Linked DNA regions of Homo sapiens: regions 1 and 2 are each linked to region 3. The links come from fine-mapping of genetic effects on gene expression. A gene starts in region 3. Each other region holds a variant in brackets. All regions are shown on one strand. Distances are between the middles of the regions.

Region 1 (2,764 bases), 220 kb before region 3:
CTTTTTATTGACACATAAGAGTTATACATATTTATGGGGCACATGTGATATTTTGATACATGTATATACTGTGCAATGATCAAATGAGAATAATTGGGATATTCATCACCTCAAACATTTATCATTTCTTTGTGTTGAGAACATTCCAGATTTTTTCTTTTAGCTATTTTGAAATATACAATAAATTCTTGTTAACTGTAGTTGCCCCACTCTGCTACAGAAGACTAGAACTTATTCCTTCTATCTAACTGTATTTTTGTACCAATTAACCAACCTCTATCTCTCCCTCCGTGCTCCCCTTCCCAGCCTCTGGTAACCACTATTTTACTCACTGTCTCCATGAGATCAATTTTTTATTATTCAGCCGTAAAAAAGAATGAGATCCTGTCATTTGCAGCAACATGAGTGGAACTGGAGGACTTTAAGTGAAATAAGCCAAGCACAGAAAGAGCAATATTGTACATTCTTACTCATATGATCATACTTTTCGGTAACTGTGAAAACTGAGATGTATAAGGGTAGCGAATATCAGCGGTGGAATTAGATCTCAATTTTCAATTTCCCAACAATTCTGTTTGGAGGTTCTTTTATTACATCAAACAGTTGTAACAGCCCGCAAGGTCTAGGCTGAGTTTTGAAGAGAAAATTGTTTTCTCAGAGGCAAATTTCTAGAAAACTCATAAAGTCTATAGTAACTCTCTCCAACTGGGAGAAGAAACTGATGGCATCTAGTGGAGGGAACACTCAGAGTATGCTAAAGGCTTGAAAGATTAAAGAAACAATGGCTTCTAAATTATGCTGATAACCTATTAGTTGGTGCAAAAATAATTACTTTTGCACCAACCTAATAGAAGAAATTCTCTTTATTGTTGTAATAGCGCATTGGCCATTAATAGCATTTGTGGTGAAGTTCAAGAAGGGTCAGACTGGTAAATTATAGCAAGGCTCACGTTGTGTAGGGAGTTGTTATTAAACAACAGATAATTAACAGCTCAAGACCAACTAAAGCATTAACTCCAATTTCTGGAGCTTGCCTAGCTCTGCAGATCCTCTTGCTTGAATAACATCCCCGACCAGTGATACAATAAATGACTCATTAGGACGGTCTTTATGTTGGTTTTGCAGGCACCTACATTCTCACTAAGCAGCTCACTCACAATAAATTGTTTTTTTTTTTTGGTGGCTGGGGGACGGAGTCTGGCTCTGTCGCCCAGGCTGGAGTGCAGTGGCGCGATCTCGGCTCACTGCAAGCTCCGCCTCCCGGGTTCACGCCATTCTCCTGCCTCAGCCTCCTGAGTAGCTGGGACTACAGGCGCCCGCCACTACGCCCGGCTAATTTTTTGTATTTTTAGTAGAGATGGGGTTTCACCGTGTTAGCCAGGATGGTCTCGATCTCCTGACCTCGTGATCCACCCACCTCAGCCTCCCAAAGTGCTGAGATTACAGGCGTGAGCCACCGCGCCCGGCCACAATAAATT[T/G]AAAAGTAAATGTTTTTGAAAAATTTATTGGTTTCCGGCCGGGCACGGTGGCTCATGCCTGTAATCCCAGCACTTTGGGAGGCCAAGGCGGGCGGATCACGAGGCCAGGAGTTCAAGACCAACCTGGCCAACATAATGAAACCCCGTCTCTACTAAAAATACAAAAATTAGCCAGGCATGTTTGTGCGTGCCTGTAGTCCCAGTTACTCCCGAGGCTGAGGCAGGAGAATCTCTTGAACCCGGGAGGTAGAGGTTGCACTGAGCTGAGATCGTGCCATTGCACTCCAGTTTGGGCAAAAGAGTGAGACTTCATCTCAAAAAAAAAAAAAAAAAAAGAAAAGAAAAGAAAAGAAAAGAAAGAAAAAATTTACTGGTTTCGTTCTACTTCTGCAAATTTAAAAGCAGCCTGAAGATAGCAGCTGCTGCTGATAAAACGTGGGCTGAACTAGTCTTTTGAACCTGAACCCTTTCTGGGAATGAGGGTGGTTCAAATGCAACCTTTTTGGGAAACCTTTGCTTAATTGGTAAGTTTGTTACCAATATGAAGCTTGGACAACAGAAATCATACACTATCCATAGGAGACAATGAGTGAAAGGAACTGAAGCCAAGGCCAGTGCCTGCATAAAGTGTTTGGAGAATCTGAAATTTATGTTCCTAGAGAAAGAAGGAGGACATGAAAGCCTGGGAGATATCTTTGGAACCAAAATGGAAAACCAATAGGGTAAACCGAAATTTAGAGGGAAAGAGAGATTTCAGTTTATAGAGTAATACAGTTATAAACTACACTCACTGATTGTACACTTGTCACCACAGCTTTGTTGTAGCCTTAAAAGATGACTTGTTATTCCTGGAAGTGATCTTACTGTTACTGTTTATTTTATTAAAACAAGGTCTTTCTGGAAAACCTGATCATATCGTTCAGCTGCTCCCCATTGCCTAAGAGTTTGTGAACAAACTTCTTATGGCATTCTGAACCCTTTTCTATCTCTTTTCCTTACTCATCTCTCATTACGTCCTTCCTTCACATCTTACACTTGAGCTACAGGACCACTTGCAAGTCTCCAAACGTTGTGTCATAACGGTTTGTGTTGTTTTTTCTTGTGCTGCTTCCTTTGCCTAAATTGCTCTTTTTGTTCCTTCCCTTGACCCCTTATGAATCTGCTGTCTTGCAAAACTTTTAATTGATGAAACTATTCCTAACCTACGCCTCAGGGAGAACTGACCATTCACTCATTTGTGCCCCAATGCATCCCACAGATGCTTAGATCATAGTAAGGATTCTATC
Region 2 (2,764 bases), 49 kb before region 3:
GAATGCCTGGGGCCATAAATAGCAAATGATGAGAGATTGTTAGAAGGCTATCTACATGAGACTACAATCTTGACAATGAAATGAATAATATTAAACTGCCCAGAAAATCAAGAAATTTACAACAGGGAATTGTAATCCACATCCCACATCCTTTGCTAAAGATTCCTAATTATGCAAGACCAAATTAGTGCATTCTAGCAATCTTTGTCCACTGACTTGGTAGTAGAGTGATTAGAGATATGGAACAGAAAGAGAATTGACTTTAGTGCCAAACAGAGCTGGGTTTGAATCCAACTCTGCCACTTAGTAAATATAGGGTGCTGAGAGATTCATTTAACACTCCTGAACCTGCAATGTAAGTGGAGATACTAATAACCGCCTGTGACATGAGGATGCAGGTGGAGCCTCTAGAACAGGATGTGGTTCACATAGAGGGAATCAATACACTTCAGGTCTTTCTCTCTCTCCTTTACTCCTTCAAGGAGACATCACAGAAGTCCTCTTAGTGCCAGGAAAGTAAAAAAGAAATGGGTAAGAGGAACAAGTAGGAAATGGGATTCAGATGTTTTTGGTACTGGGTCTCTTGATTAGGTATTGGGTGGTAGAACTCATAGGCCCAGACCTGTAAGAGATATTTTCAGAGAGGAGCTAATTGAAACCAAAGTCATAAAACATATGTCCATCTGATTTCTTTATATAGGAAAGCCCAAACATTTCAGATCTAGTTTCCAGGAGTTTATGGAACACCTTCATTGATGGCAAATTCTACATTTTTGAGATTTCTCTATTTGTCATTACAGTTGGTCAGCATCAAGGCCACAGTTTGCTTTTAGGGTGGTCATGAATTAATTTTTTTAAGTTAAGATAGTTAAACCTATCATTATTTCTACAAAGCATTTTGTCTTAGATTTGCCTATTTATATTTCCCTGTGAGCATGTCTTTCCATTCATCTCTTCGATAGTTAACACTTATTAAGCACTTACCATGTGCCAGATCTCCCATTTAAATCACCTAGTAAATACAATATTAACTCACTTAATCCTCCCAATAACCCAAGAGGCAGGTACCATTACTGCCCCATTCCATAGACAGGAAAATGCAGGATAGATGGATTCAGTTGTGGGTCCAATATCACACAGTTCTTGGGTTGCAGAATCAAGAGCTGGACCCAACCCGTCTGACTCCAGAGCTTGTGCAGTAATAGTGCCTAAAATAAGGCACAATATCATGCATTGTTGAAGGCCGAAAGAGTGAGGGTCGTAATCAACTCAGTATACCACTGGAGGCTATGTGAGTAAACAGCAAACTGCTCTCACGAAAGCAGGATGTTGGAAAACTGACAAACTGCATCTGCTGCCCACAAGGAATGCTGAGGGCAGTCACAACCAAGGCACAAGTGTTTCTTGTGATTAGACACATCTGAAGCCTGTTAGCAATAATGTGAACTTGTGATCAATTAAGCAGCTGACCAGTCATTACCTCCTCCTCCCTACTCTTTCTACCCAGTAAAAAAGAAGGGCTGAAGAAGCTCGAGGTGGCTGCCTTTGCTCACTAGAAGCAGGGAGCCATCTTCCCCGGCCCCTTCCTTTAAAACAGTTTCCTTTGTCTTAAGTTTTCATTTCT[G/A]TGTTCATTCCCCTTTGTTCAGTCTCATAACGACAGTCTCAAGTAGTAACAGTAGTAACTGTCGTAGTGATGGTCTCAAGTAGTAATTGTGGCAGTCAGACATAGTGCATGAAAACAAAAATAATACTAAAACTTCGAACAGAAGACTATAAAAGCAGAAATCAAGTCATAAAGATGAGAATGAACGGGAGGAGGAGAGGTGAGACTTGGAAAAACAGGCTTAATGCAAGACCCTAAATTTGAGCCAAAGTCTTACTTTTGAACTTCTTGGCTATCAAGGCCAAAAGGAAAGTAGGACATGTGACGGTTCAAACTACATAGTAAAAGGAAGACCAGTAGTCTCAAAGAAAAACATATTGTATCCTTCTTAGCCCTTTATTTAATTTTCCAGTTCTGAGCTTGAGAAAGTGTAGAAGTCTCATCAGTGATTAGTTCCTGACAACTATCTAATTACTTTAATTTTGCTGGCCAGAGATGGAGCTTCAGCTACTGCTGATGTTCCAAAATGCCCATTGATATTTTCTTGAGTAAGAAAAGCAAGCTACAATATTCCTCCCTGTTCCATTCCATAGATTATCAATAAAAAAAAAACCCAATTTATTTAGAAAATGTTATTTCTTGCATTGCGTAATATTAAAGCACAGAGCTTTGCTTTTCAAGCTGGCAGCTTATATATGACAGGAACGCCATGATGCACAAATTAATTATTTAATTAAAAAAAACAGAAAAATATTGCTGAGATAATGTCAAGAAAAGAATGCTGAATTTTACAGTGGTACAAAGGCATTTATGATTATCTTACTTTTATTTCCCTGGGTAGTTATTTAAAAAGCTGGAAAAGCACTAATCTAAGGAAAAGGATATACTTCTATCATATAAAATTATTCAAATTTCAACTTTCATTGCTGGATTTTTTTCTGTATAAAGAATACATCTTTTGATTCTATTAAATTGGAGCTTTTCAGTCATAATAAGTAACTTCAAGAGTTACAACACGCATTTTTCTCTGACTAAAAGAGGCTAGCGGAACCATGATTATTGTTAACAATATAATTCACCAGCCCGCAATTAATTCTATTTTAGTAACTACCAGAACAGGTAAGGCATATATGGTTATCTCTTATTTAAATTATTGTCCAA
Region 3 (2,764 bases):
TGGGAGTTTGAACAGCACTTGGGGCAGCCTTTGTTGAAAGTTAATACCAGTTGGTGTTTAACAAGAAAAGGAAAACTCAGGCAAGGGGTAATACTCTGTTGTGAGGCACCACTTAGCTGTATGGAACTAACTGTCCCCATCAAATCTTACCTAACCAGAACACATCCTCAGAACAAAATTCTCCAAGTGTAACGTATTCAGGGCTAATTCATTAATTCTCCATTGTAGCCCACTGGACTCAATGCTCTGTGGTCACTAAATCAAAAGAGCATACATACTCAGGAAAAGAGAATTAAGAACTTTGCCTTTTTTAACTTCGAATGGATATAGAACATCAGAGATATTTATTTTTCCCTATTAAGTATTACCACCTTCTATTTACTGGGCAAAAATGCTTGTTTCCTGCACCTTTAAATCTAATTTGTGTTTTCCCCCCTACAAGAAAGATCATGAAGGTGGATTAGTACAGAGTTGTATGGACTTTTTCAGTATCTTTAATGCATTTGCTTCTGGAAAGAGAAGCGCTGCAGACACACGGTGGCAATTCCTGCTCAGGTGTAGTGCCATTCTTTTGTGTGACTCACAGCTAGAGAGAGAGCTGACATTCAATATATGTTTAACAATACTTTCCCACTACTGATTCCACTCAGGAGACTCACATTTTTATGCCTTTTCTAAAAACAAGGACACAAAAAAAGTCACTGTCTGAGGAGGCTCATTCTTTGTTCATCTTCACCTGACTGGCCACCTAACTACACAAAGCTTTTAAACTAATGAGGAGAATCCTTTGTTCTCTCTGGTTCCATTTAAAGGGAAAGTGGGTCGAAGGGCTTCCCCAGGGAGAGAGAAAGAAAAGCCCAGGAGCCAAACACAAGGGAGTAAGAGATTTCACTCCCACTACTATTCCCACCCTCCCAAAGAAGTTAATTAATTCTGTTTTAGGAATGGTTAAAAGGGGTGGGGGAGCACCAGGTAGCCCATTCTCTGAGACCAAAATCTCCTTCTCGAGTGTGGTTCGCACCAGCCTCTTGTCTCTGACACCACGGGGTGTGGGTGGGGGGCGTGGGGGGAGGGCAGGAGTACTGAGAACCTCTCTCCAGCCACGGACCACAGAGCCAGTACTGCATGCATTTAGGCTCCCCCAAAGGTGCGTCCCAGCCCAAGTCCCCAAGTTGGGTATTTAAATCTAAAAAGCACAATTAGCGCCATTCAAAGCTGCAAGTTACAGTACCTTCAGAAGTCTGACAGATGGAAGAAAGGCTGCGTGGCACAGCTTCCGGATGGTCCAGTTTAGGGGTCGAGGAGCATCAGCCTGATTCATGACCCCTTCCAAATTCCACCAGGAAAACAAGAAACTGAAAACCTGAGCAATGCCTAGAAAATAAACGGTCCCCCACGGCTCTGGCATCCCATGGTCATCTCCACACCTGCAAATTCCATTAGGGCAGAGGCTTCCTGGAACTTGGAAGACTAGTCAAGTAGCCTTGCCTGAGCCCCTGAACCTTCTTAAAACAGCCACCTCCCCTCTCTCTGCAGCCGTGCTCATGCATACCAAATGTGGCTGAATGGAGGCACACTGCCTGCTGCTTCGGGGAGGGGATGCACGATTTTGAAGAAGAGGGACAGCCTGCACAAAACAGCCTGTGGTCGGAGTCAAAGCAGCCTGCTCCAGAATGCGCGCTCCCTCTCCCGCTCTCCTCCCAGTAAACGCAGGTCAGGCGTTGGGGGGGAACCGGGGCCATTGCTTTGCTAGCTTGGTTTGGGGGGGAGCCAGGAGGATCGCAAAAGGGAACAAAAATGAAGCCAGAACGGGAAACTTGCACTTTCTTGCACAAAGCATCTTTGAGGGACTGAGAACTGGTACGGGGGGAGGGGTGAGGACACAGGGAGAGAAGGGGTGCCTCCGAATGATGAGATAAATGCTTCCCTTTTGATTTATGTGACATAATAAAGTGAGGCTATCATCAAATACATCTATAGTAAAAGAGATCTGTGTCGTGTTCTGAGGTTTTTATTAACCGTGATTGACAGTCTTCATCCTGATAATCGGTTGCATAGATGACAGACACTGAGACAGAAGCAAACTCAAACACACTGGGTTGTTCCTTTCATACAAAGCAGTTTAAACTCATGGGCATTTGGCTCACCTTTTAGAGATGGCAGTTTTTAAATGGGGGTTATCTCCTGGAAAGCCACTTGATACCGCTTCTCTGCAACACAAGTTTAACCCATAAAGTGCCACATGGGATGCTGTCTATAAAGAATGGATTTTCCTCAAGTGGGGTGTCCACCCCCATCATTTTCTAAGGAGGCTGTATGAAATAGTTGCTGAGTTGGAATGTATAGTCTTTAGGACTCCTGTGGTGAGAGAGAGAATTAAAGGACAGTTTTTCAATTTGAAGGTAGAAATTGGATAATTTCACATAGTAAGTTGGGACGGTGAGATGAGAAGGGAGTTCCTGACACAACCCCCCTTCGGCTCCCATGTACCCCCAGGCATCGGACCTCAGTGGGAGCAGTTGACCTGACAACTCCTATGGGGAGAATCCCCACATCCTTGGAGCATCGCCATCTTATTTATTTTTTCCTCTGTGACCATGCTGATTTTCCATTTCTAATTAACTTGAAGAGATTGGTAAATCCCAGCTCCATGACTATTATGCAGTCAGAGCTGAACTGGGAGTGGTGCAAGCAGATGTGATACACTGCTGTAATTCAGAACCGGGACAACACAGGCCCACCCCAGCATGAAATCAATACCTGA

Evidence for each region. PIP is the estimated chance that this variant, and not a neighbour inherited with it, causes the effect. A credible set is the group of variants that fine-mapping cannot tell apart.
Region 1: its variant is the best candidate, but not a certain one, in a credible set for the expression of TRPM3 in subcutaneous fat (GTEx, PIP 0.52).
Region 2: its variant is the best candidate, but not a certain one, in a credible set for the expression of TRPM3 in cerebral cortex (GTEx, PIP 0.54).

Annotation. Positions count from the first base shown.
Region 1 is chr9:70,896,954-70,899,717 of GRCh38, forward strand. All of the region lies in intron 1 of TRPM3 (transient receptor potential cation channel subfamily M member 3), which reads right to left. Among named protein-coding and RNA genes, the nearest start is that of MIR204, 88 kb to the left of the region's middle. The variant T/G (reference allele first, on the strand shown) is at 1,479.
Region 2 is chr9:71,071,438-71,074,201 of GRCh38, forward strand. All of the region lies in intron 1 of TRPM3 (transient receptor potential cation channel subfamily M member 3), which reads right to left. Among named protein-coding and RNA genes, the nearest start is that of TRPM3, 49 kb to the right of the region's middle. The variant G/A (reference allele first, on the strand shown) is at 1,625.
Region 3 is chr9:71,119,947-71,122,710 of GRCh38, forward strand. It overlaps TRPM3 (transient receptor potential cation channel subfamily M member 3), which reads right to left and starts at 1,675. Exons shown (of 26, transcript NM_001366145.2): 1 at 1,232-1,675. The coding sequence starts at 1,408. RefSeq lists an enhancer at 483-1,320.